Linked DNA regions of Homo sapiens: region 1 is linked to region 2. A link means that fine-mapping ties the variant in region 2 to the expression of a gene that starts in the linked region. Tissue or cell type: whole blood. Region 2 holds a variant in brackets; the other region holds the start of a gene. All regions are shown on one strand. Distances are from middle to middle.

Region 1 (5,371 bases), 110 kb after region 2:
TGGCTTTGGATAATAAAGTAGTCCTTGGTTATATTTACCTCTGTAAGTTGTTATCCAAAAATAACTTGAATATTTTTCAGCTTTAACCTTTAAGAAGTTATTTCTTAGAATAAATGACACTGCTTTTGTTTGTTTGTTTAGCCTTTGAGCTGATAAAAGTGATGCCAAGTTAATTTTAAAAGTCTTTAGGCTGCAGTCTCTTCCACTGTTCTGTAAACAGAGACAGACATACAGACATATAGATAGTTAAGAGTTTTCATGCCTTTGCCTGGGTCTTCTCTGAATCAAAGGATAAAACCCTCTTCCTTCCCATTGCATAACACACACCAACGCATGCACACCAAATCCAGTGACCGAAGTCCCTGAAGATAGATCTGCATTTTCCAGATTATAATTCAAATTCTATGTCTTGATATAGGCAAACACAGCCCCAACTCTAAATCTCTATATAGCAGCAGTTTAAAATAACATCAGAACTGCTGGGACCATCAAAACAGTGTTCTCTGTTTCAAGCAAATAGCTCAATGAATAATGCATTTTCTTCATGAGAAAATAAAGCCAATGAGCATTTAAAGGTTAAAAAAAAACAGAGAAAGTTGTAAGAAATTCTGGAAATAATTTCCTTTTTTTTTTTTTTTTTTTGGTGTTGCACTTTGCAGGCAATGCAGGTCTGCGCAGTGTTCTTCAGGATAGAGTGTAGGCGTTGAGAGCCAATGTGACAATAAGTGTCTAAATTAGGAATTCCATCCATGAAAGGGGACTTCATTTTATAATCAGGAACTCAAAAAGAGGTCGTATGTCTTTTCCTAATGAAATTGGTACTTTTGCTTTCATTTATTTGACAGTGCATGTCTGCAATGCCGTGCTCATCAATGATCAGAGAGTGAGGAAATAGCTCTGAATTCACTTTAATGCCTGCTCAAGAGAGCGCACTCAATATAATGCTCTTTATTTTTAATCAGTCTGGAGTACACAGTCTTATTTTGTTCTAAATAATAAAAAATAAATCATTACCCTCACCCCCCTTTGGACTGCAGGGCCCGTTCAAAAAGCCGTGTTTCCCTCTTAAAGAAGGGGTGGGGGCGGGGGCAAAGGCTGGCCACGGAGGTGTCAAGGATGTTTTATTTATTTATTTATTTATTTATTTATTTATTTATCTCTTGCTGAGAAGCAAACCAGCATTGAGTTTAGCTATTCTCAAAACTGATTTTCTGGGTGACACTTTAGTTTAGTCGAACATAGACGGCGCCATCACTCCACAGATTTTTCCCCCCAATAGAAGACCCACTGCCTTCTCTTAACTTCCTTTTAACCTAAAATTTTCCCCTCATAAAATTACCCCAATCACACAAAACTGCCAGATTTTCTAGGTCTCTCCGCTTATTCCTTCTGACCCAGCACATCTCTTGAAAACCAGACTTCTCTAACTTTTCAACTGCGGCGTTTAAGTAAATGCAGACAGTCGGATCTGCTCACAGCCTCCCCATCCGCCAGCAACAGCCTTTCCTTTCATTTTCCTCCCTTCTCAAACATTAAGCCCAAAGCTCCACGGTGGCGACCCCCGGCAGAGAAAAGGTGACCCCTGGACCCCCTTCCTTACCTTCCACTCCGAAAGCTCAGGGAGGCTCTTGCTCTAAGACACCAGCACAGGCACGCGTCCCAGCAACAGTGACGGAGAGACTCCCCTTCGGTCCCAATCACCGTTGCCCATTTTCCCCGGCTCAGCTTCCAAAATCAGGATTTATTTTTAAAAATGCATACATACGAAAAGCAAAAGGTGGGGGGTGGGAACCAAAGGGGGGTCGATGAGAGAGAGGAAAAAAAAGCCAGCAGGAGCCCAGAACCTTGCGCCGTATCCAACTGAATCCAACCTCCAAACCGAGGGGGGCTAAAGGGAGGGAGAAGCCCCCCCAAGGGAGACTCTAAGGAACCCCCCAAAATGTAAGTGGCTTAATAGCAAAGATTTGTTTCATAAAAGCTACCCCCAACAAACCAAGAAGCAAAGAAAGCGCTGAGACGAGAAGTGACCGGCGGCGGCGGCGGCTGCTATGGCAGATTTGTTGGGGCGGTGGGTTTATTACAGGAGTATTCGTGGTCGGATCGGAAGGCTCAAGCTTATGCTTTTTCCTCTTTCCGCTTTCCTCCCTCCTCCTCCTCCCCCCTGCAGGTACTGATGGACGGACGGCGACTAAGGAGAGCGGGGAAAAAAATCCTTGGCTGGTGATGTCGGAAAGCTGTTTGAATGCCCAGCGAGGAGGGAGGCGCGAGAGGGAGCGAGATAGTAAAGCTCTGTCTCGGGTGTGCGCGCCGGCGCGCAGTGCTCGCTCTCCCTTGGGCGCGCGCGCGGGGGGTGCGCGTGTCCCGGGAGCGCGTCCGCGCGGCGGCCTCCCGCGTGCTCGTGTGCGCGCGCGTCCCGGGTGCCGCGCGCCCTTCTTATGCACAGCTGCGGTGCGCCCCGCCGCCCGCCAGAGGCTCGGCTCGCGCGGCGCGGCCGCTGCGACTTCCTGGAGTTCTGCCTGCCGGGGGCGCGGGCGGGTGTGTGAGAGAGAAGGCGAAGGGAGCCGCGGGGTGGGAGAGGAGGGAGTCCCGGCGGGAGGGCGGGGGAGAGGCTGGCGGGAGGGGGGCTCCACGGAGCTCCAGCCAGGGCCGCGGTTCGCCTGCACGTCACGGCTACTCAAACCCAAGCACGTCCCGAAAGCGGTATTTTCTGCGTCTGGGAGGTTTTTGCATCCTCAGTTCCCACCGCTGGGGCTGGCGGCGACCAACTGTAAGAGAAACTCACTGGGAGGCGAGGCAGGGGGGTGCGGAGGATGGGAAGGCGACTCTGAAGGGTGGGAAGTGAATGCTGGACTTGATCGTCTTTCTCTTTCTTTCAGCGCAGACCTGTCGCAGCCAGAGAGCTGTCATTTCAGTACCGGGATTCAGAATTGATCCAGTCCGCAGCGGAGGGGGCACATCCCAGCTACCGAGCTGCTGAGTGTCTCTGGCTGGAACAATAGTATTTTTTTCTCTGCGAGGCTGCAATTAACATCTTATTTGTTCTGGCTCCATACAGGCTTTGTCAGGATCGCGGTGCGGCGACCGACGTTGGGCTCTTGCATTGCTTTGTGCTTGGCAATGGAATCATGGTTTCGGGGTCTAAACTTTTGTTTCGTTTTGTAGTCTTAATGTATCTGATTCTTTTTCAAGTTTCCCTAGTAACAGGTTTGGGGACGGGGTGGGAAGAAGCGAGAAAAGGGGTGAAGAGAAAAAACCAGATTATATAGAAAGGAAAAAGGGAAAAGGGATGTTTCCCCACCTTTTAATCTAACTATCTATCTGTCTGTCTATCTATCATCATAGATAGTCATTTTGCCTCCTGGACAGTTGGCTGACGAAGTGTCTGATAAACCAGCTTCAGATACATGCTACAAAAGGTCATTCGCCTCCTGATTATGTTTCTACTTGTAAACGCAGTTGGTGGTTTGCAAAACAAGTGCTAAAATAGTGCAGTGATGTGGTGGGAGGAAACCATAATGGGTAATTCATATAAAGTGCTGGAATCTTCGTAAGGGTGAGTTTCTCGAGCGGCAGGTGAAGTTGAATAAAGCAATTTTCCATCATTTGTTCCCCTCACTCTTGCATTTTTTTCCTCCGCTTGTTTCTCTCCCCTGGGGCGATTATGGATAGCCAAGAACACCATTTTAAAAGAGATTGATAGTGAAAACAGGAAGTTTATGGTCTGTTATCCACTGGAGTTGTTTGAAATATTAAAATTGGTCCTTTACTTCTTAATGCATATTAATAGAGTGACCCTCTTCAAGGCTTTCCCGTCTTAAACGAATGCCTGGGATAAACACTGTAAGGGGAAACAGTTAATAATTCCCCAGCAGGCTTTAACTATTTTCCCAGTAACAAATCACCGGCAAGAGAGCAGCCTGGGTGGCATTTTGGTTTTGTGTCATTTTGGTTCTTTACAATATTTTTTATTCATTTAAGGAAATGTTAAAAGGAAATAATTAGGGTTTATGTCCAGAACAAATTTTGAAACACCGTTTAAGCAACACATTTTCTTTTAAAAACAAAGAACATTGAGCAACACAAAGGAGAAAAACATTTTATTTATTTCAACTTCCCTAGAGATCGTAATTATGATTTTCGCAAGGCAATTTGGTCAGTTCTGTTACTTTATCCAGAGGAAAAAAAAGCATGACAGATGTGGAATAAAAACGGAGGAAAAAATGCTTTGGATGGTTTATACATAAAAAGGAAAGAATGTAATGTGAGGTTCAGTTATACCTCTATTTTGCATCTAGTGATTTCTCATATTATCTTGTAACACTGATTTTGATGTTTCTTAGAAATTCTTAAAGTCATGACACAGTGGCATAAGAATAACAGCTGAAAGGGACAATTTAAAAGCCTAAATCCTAAATGGAAAGGTTCACTTACTCCCAGGATCATTTATATTCAAGTAGAAGTCAGGGCAGGGTCAGAAAAGAAAGCCACCCTTAATAAAGCGCTTCACCCTTCACATTGTTTCTCATAACCTTCATAAATTGCAGGCTACTGAGCTGGCCTGATGATGATCCTTCTGAGATATATTTATAGCAGATGATTTGTGGATGATAACTACGCCAAGCAAGACACTGTCTCCAGTAACCCCAGGCTCGTCTGACTTCCTCAGGGGATTATAATAAAGAATCACAAAAAGAACCCTATATGGACAGTCTGGTCTCTGGACACTAACAACAGCACAATCCAAAGGCAAAGAAAGGAGGAACCACCTTGTTTCATGTCTGCAAGCTGCTCCATATGAAAGCATTGCTGACATGTTGACCCAACAGCAAAAAGAGAGCAGCAGTTTACACACCCTCAGCTCTCTGTCCTTTCCTTTCTATTGATGTTGGTCCACTTTTATGACTGAATACATATTAAAATCACCATTTCAAATTATAATTATCTGCTTTCATTGGTCTCTTTCACAAGTCTATGTCTATATTTATGTTTACATATATAAACACATATACACATATTTTATACATACATATGTATATGTATGCACGCATTATTTGTAAGTACACATACACGTGTGTGTATATATATGTATATGATATGTATATGTGTATTTCAGTTGATACACATATATTTGCTTGGGAAGTTTCACTACATTGCTTTGTATTTCTCTTTTATAAGGTAATGCATTTAATTCCAAAACTACCACATTAATTGTATAAATTGATTATTACATAAGTTTCCTTGATGATTTACAGAAGAACTATTGAGAGGTCAGTGTTAGCACATCAAAATATAGTCTGGTATGGCATTTTAAATTGACCCAGGTATCTAATATTAAAGCCTTTCAAATTTATCTCTCCTGCTATTATTTTAT
Region 2 (5,000 bases):
TGTCTAAGAAAACATGGGTTATCAAACTATTTGGAAAGTCAGGAAACTTCCCGAACAGAAAAAAAAAATGGAGCACTTAAACATTTTCAAATCTACCACTAACAAGAATTTCTGGATATACACACACACACAAAAAAAAAAACAAGTAGAAGATTCAGATGTCTCAACTTAGGAAATCAGAAGATATATTGAAGGTGAGCACAGTCATTGCTGAGATCTTAATCAGTAGCCTGAATGATCCAGAAGAGAAGGAAAACATGAGAGAAAAGATGAGACTTGGCAGATATATTCAGGTGACCTCATACCCAAGTAATAGGAATAACAATAAAAGAAGGAACAGAGAAAGAATCTATAATTAAATATTTAATTGAAGCAAATTTCTGAGCTAAAGAAATGTGATTCTATAGACTGAAAGAGCTCACGAAATCCAGCCTAGATATATCAGAAAACGTATACGCATGCCTAGTCATATCTGGTAAACTGAGCTGTAAGAATAAACACAAGTACTATAGAACTCCAAACAGGGGTGAAAAAATAGTTGCTTAAAAAGATACAAGAAATACATCTTTATTACATAAAATTTAGGAAAAAATAGAAAATTATAAAAAATATATTAAAATTACATGTATCCCACTATATAAAATATTAATAGATGTTTTAATGTTCACACCATTTAGTTTATTTTCCTTTTTGAGGAAAAACAATATCTAGAAGTTTACGTGGCTACTTTATTATCACATTATTTCTTAAGACTTCAATTAATATTTTAGGATGATTTAACATTTAGTGATTCCCTGCTTAGTGCCAAATACTGTGGTGAAATATTCACCTCTCCTTTATTCTAACTTAACCTTCACAGAAAATCTATGTGGTAGGCATTTATTATTCTCTGTTTATTGAGAGTAAGTGACTTCTTTGGGTGGTGCAGATGTGGGAAGCAGAGGAGTCAGGTTTCAATTTCTAATCCAAATTTTAAACCTGTCCTTTCAACTATAACAACTCACTTTTCAAAGAATCAGCCTTATTCCTGAGAATGATTAATATAGATAGTGCTTTTATTTTTCTTTTTCCCCTCTGTCAGAGTCAAGACCCAGAGAAAGAAAAAAAAAACTATAAGAGTTCCTTTAAAATGTGTATGACCTGTCATAGAAAGGATTAAATTTCCATTCATATATTTATGTTGAGACATAATATATAAACAGTGTGCTTAATGAGAACTGGAAGAATTACAATATATGCTGAATTTGAAACTAGTTTACATCATGAAGAAGCCACTCATTAGCAATGACTTGTGATAAGACTGGGGAGAAAACACCACAAGCAATTTATCTCCTAGGATTTCTTCAGAAGTCAGTGGCAAAGCAATAATAGTCAGTGAATGACATCACAATTTTAACTTATTTCAGGGAAAGTGTTTCCATGTAGTTTTCTTCATATTTTAAGCTAAATTCTTCAAACAAAAGATATATGAACATTCAGTTCTTTGCATTTTTAACACAGAAACTTGTGTTCAAAGTTTTTATGAATTTTCCCATGTGGTCCTTCCTACTTAAACAACATGTGAACTCGTGAATGATAATGAATTTGCATATTTAGCTAAAACGTTATAAGAAGAAGAATGCAAAAAGGAATGCTGAAAAGAATTTTTAAAGAACATTTCATCAGAAGCAAAAATGTTTAGGTTGTAAAAAACTGATGACAATAATTCAACCTGTCACCTTAATCAGCCAGTTTGATATTAGATTACTCTTCTATACTTATGATAGAAAAGGTAACAAACAGTGGTTAAGAAGGCCAGGGCAGGCACAGTGCTCAAGCCTGTAGTCTCAGAACTTTGCGAGGGTGAGGTGGGAGGATCACTTGAGCTCAGGAGTTTAAGACCAGCGTGGGCAATACAGTGAAACCCTGCCTCTGCAAAAACTACAAAAGTTTATCTGGGCATAGTGGCACATGTCTGTAGTCCCAGCTACTCGGGAGGCTCAGGTTGGAGGATGGCTTGAGCTGGCGAGGTGGAGGTTGCAGTTGAGCCATGATGGCATGATCACAGCACTGCACTCCAGCCTGGGCAACAGAGCCAGGCCCTGTCTCAAAAATAAAATATTAAAAAAAATTTAAAAAAAGCCAGACTGCTTGTATTCAAATACCAGCTCTCACATTTGATAGCTATGTGACCTTTGACCTTTAGGAGGTTACTTTATCTCCGGGTGCCTTAGTTTCATAATCTGTAAGATGTGGATAAAAATAGTTTTTGTTGTGGTAGTTTCATGAGAATTAAATGTGTTAACAAATGTAAACACTTGTAATAGTGCCTAGCACATAGGAAGCCCTATGCAGACACTAGATACACCATTTTGTGTCCATGCATGCATTTGTTTCATTTTTTTTTCCTGTCAAGCAAACTGACAAATGGTTTTTCACCAACTTCCATGTTTGTCCCAAAGTTTCAAAACTCACAAGCTCATTCTGTATTCTTCTGCTTCCTTTCCCTTCTTAGAAAACCAAAACATATA[T/A]CACTGTATGCATGCACTTCAGAGAAACAGGAAGTTGGTGGGGGTGAGGAGTTCATACAGAAGACTGACATGGCCTATCAACACTTAACTATGTTCCAGTTCAAACAAACTCACTTTATCTTTGTTAAGGGAATAGAAGAAATGAAACAAACGGTTTTGCCCCAATTTAAATCCTATAAAGTATTTCTGACATCCTTCTATAGATACACCAAAGGTAGTTTTGCACAACATAATGGATAAATAAATATTATGTTTTACTAACACATAATATTGTTAAGGGACAATTTTAAAACCATTGCATGCATATATTATAATAACATGTAAAAATTAACACTGACATTGTGGCCCATACAAGGACATGATTCCTATGAAATATATGCTTCATTCTTAGTAGCCAAATTGGAATTTTTTTAATAAACAGTTGTATCTAGTCCAAAATCTACCCTTCTACCATATTCTCATCCAAGGTTATTGATACAAATTGATGTTTTTTTCTTAAAGATGCTCTAATTACCCATAAGAATATTTACTTGCTTCTTATTGATATTTGTTTCCTATTTATCACATTTTCTTTTCTTTATAGAGACCAGGTCTCACTATATTGCCCAGGCTGGTCTCCAACTCCTGGGCTCAAGCGATCTTGCTGCCTTAGCCTCCCAAAGTTCTGGAGTTATGGCCTATGCCACCACGCCCAGACTTATCACTTTGGATATAAGTGATAACAGAGGTCTTTGAAAAGCCTGCCCAGACACACAACACTATGCAATTTTTAGTAGCACAGACTTCCATTCCCTAAAATAAAGCCTGAGATTTGTGTAAAGGAAATTCTTTATTAATTATCAGAAAATTGCAGAAGTAGAAAATGTTATATAAGCCTAATCAAGTATAAAATAACTGATAAAATAGAGTGTCAGAGAGTTTTGTATAGACCTGCCACTTCTGAATAATTGGCATTATTATTATTAATAATAATGTTGTACCTGTTATTAATGTTGTTTTTCACTTGAAAATGCTAAATAAGCATCTCTATTAACAAGCTACAACCTTTCGATACTAATAGTACACAAAGTTAAACAAAAACATAGAAAGTTAATTAAAACCAAACAAGTGAGATAATGAAACTAAATGACTATTGATGGCTTAAACTCTACAGCTAACTATGTGATGGCTTGATGTGTGTTCATAATTAACCTACAATTTGAATATGTAAACATTCTGTAGATTTCATTTAGTACCACAGTAATTTTCTTTTTAGAAAATAAATCAGATTAACTCTCTTTTCTGGTCAACTATTTCACTTCTCCTCTCTTTCCATATCTTAAACACCTGCTATCCTCACTCTCAGCTGTTTATTCTCAAAAAATGTAAACAAATAGAACAGAGTTGCCAAAGGCTCTCACCATCATGTCTATCACCTACCTGCATCTAGACCTGTGCACTCTGACTTCTCTCATCTCCCTTCATTCTGCTATCTGAAGAAAATCCCTCCAATTGTGCATCAGGCCCCATCCCCTCTTACCTACCTAAAGACAAGCTCTTATTCTCTTTGTTTCCTATGTAATCATTTTTCAATTTCTGCAGAAATTCTAGTAAGCATATAAAAACATGAAAAACTTTCTCCCAACTAAAACTAAACAAAACCCTCACTTGACCACACATACCTTGCCAATATACAATTAATTTGCCAGTTCTTTTTTCCAACAAAATTCCTACAAAGATCTTTCCTTACTCATTGCTTCCGATCCCTTTCTTCGTATTTACCCTTAAATCCAATCCATTCAGGTCATTCAGCCTTCTACCTTTTAAAATTGCACCAGAGGTAAAGTATTGTTGGTAAGGTCATCATCAATGATCGCTACGTTTCTAAGTCAGTAGTCAATGATTGGTCCTCATTTTAGTTGACCAATAGCAGAATTTGAAACATTTGCTTGCACCTGTTCCTTTTACTTGACATATAAGGTATCACATTCTTAGTGTTTTACCTTACTGACCAGTTCATGTTAGTCTCCTTTCCTGTATCCTCTTCATGTCCCCAATCTGTTGGAGTGACCCAGATCATAATCCTCAGACCCCTTCTCTATTTACAATCACTTTCTTGGTAAGATTATACAATTTTGTAACTGTAAATATCCACTGACAGCTCCCATATTTTAATCTTTATTTGGACATCCCTCTGAAACTTTTTATTTGAATGTGAAATATACATCACAGACTTACTTTGACCCAAATCAAACTAGTAATCTTCCTGCAAAATTTGTTTTTTCCTCATCTCAGAAAATAACTCCATTCTTAAAATTGCTCATGCCAAAAACCTTAACGTCAGTTTTGTTGATAACTCTTATTTTCATATTTTATACTTTAGGAAATCTTGTTGGTTCTTCCCTCAAAACATAGCCAGACTCAAATAATTTCTCATTATCTTCACGACCTTCTCCCTCTAGCCAAAATTATCACCTTTGTTCAGTCCACTGTCATTTTCACCCCTAGGTT

Evidence for each region. PIP is the estimated chance that this variant, and not a neighbour inherited with it, causes the effect.
Region 1: it holds the start of ADGRB3-DT, and the variant in region 2 is fine-mapped to the expression of ADGRB3-DT in whole blood (TOPMed, PIP above 0.99). The same link has a PIP of 0.9 or more in blood mononuclear cells.

What each region holds. Positions count from the first base shown.
Region 1 is chr6:68,632,230-68,637,600 of GRCh38, reverse strand. ADGRB3-DT (ADGRB3 divergent transcript) reads left to right here and starts at 3,277. Exons shown (of 2, transcript NR_125872.1): 1 at 3,277-3,416; 2 at 4,545-4,938. ADGRB3 (adhesion G protein-coupled receptor B3) reads right to left here and starts at 2,319. Exons shown (of 32, transcript NM_001704.3): 1 at 1,601-2,319; 2 at 39-210. It overlaps LOC127898563, which reads right to left and starts at 1,711. Exons shown (of 1, transcript NM_001414704.1): 1 at 1,634-1,711. The coding sequence starts at 1,711. The coding sequence ends at 1,634. RefSeq lists a silencer at 2,371-2,580.
Region 2 is chr6:68,738,484-68,743,483 of GRCh38, reverse strand. The region is part of intron 3 of ADGRB3 (adhesion G protein-coupled receptor B3); the gene reads right to left. Among named protein-coding and RNA genes, the nearest start is that of ADGRB3, 110 kb to the right of the region's middle. The variant T/A (reference allele first, on the strand shown) is at 2,511.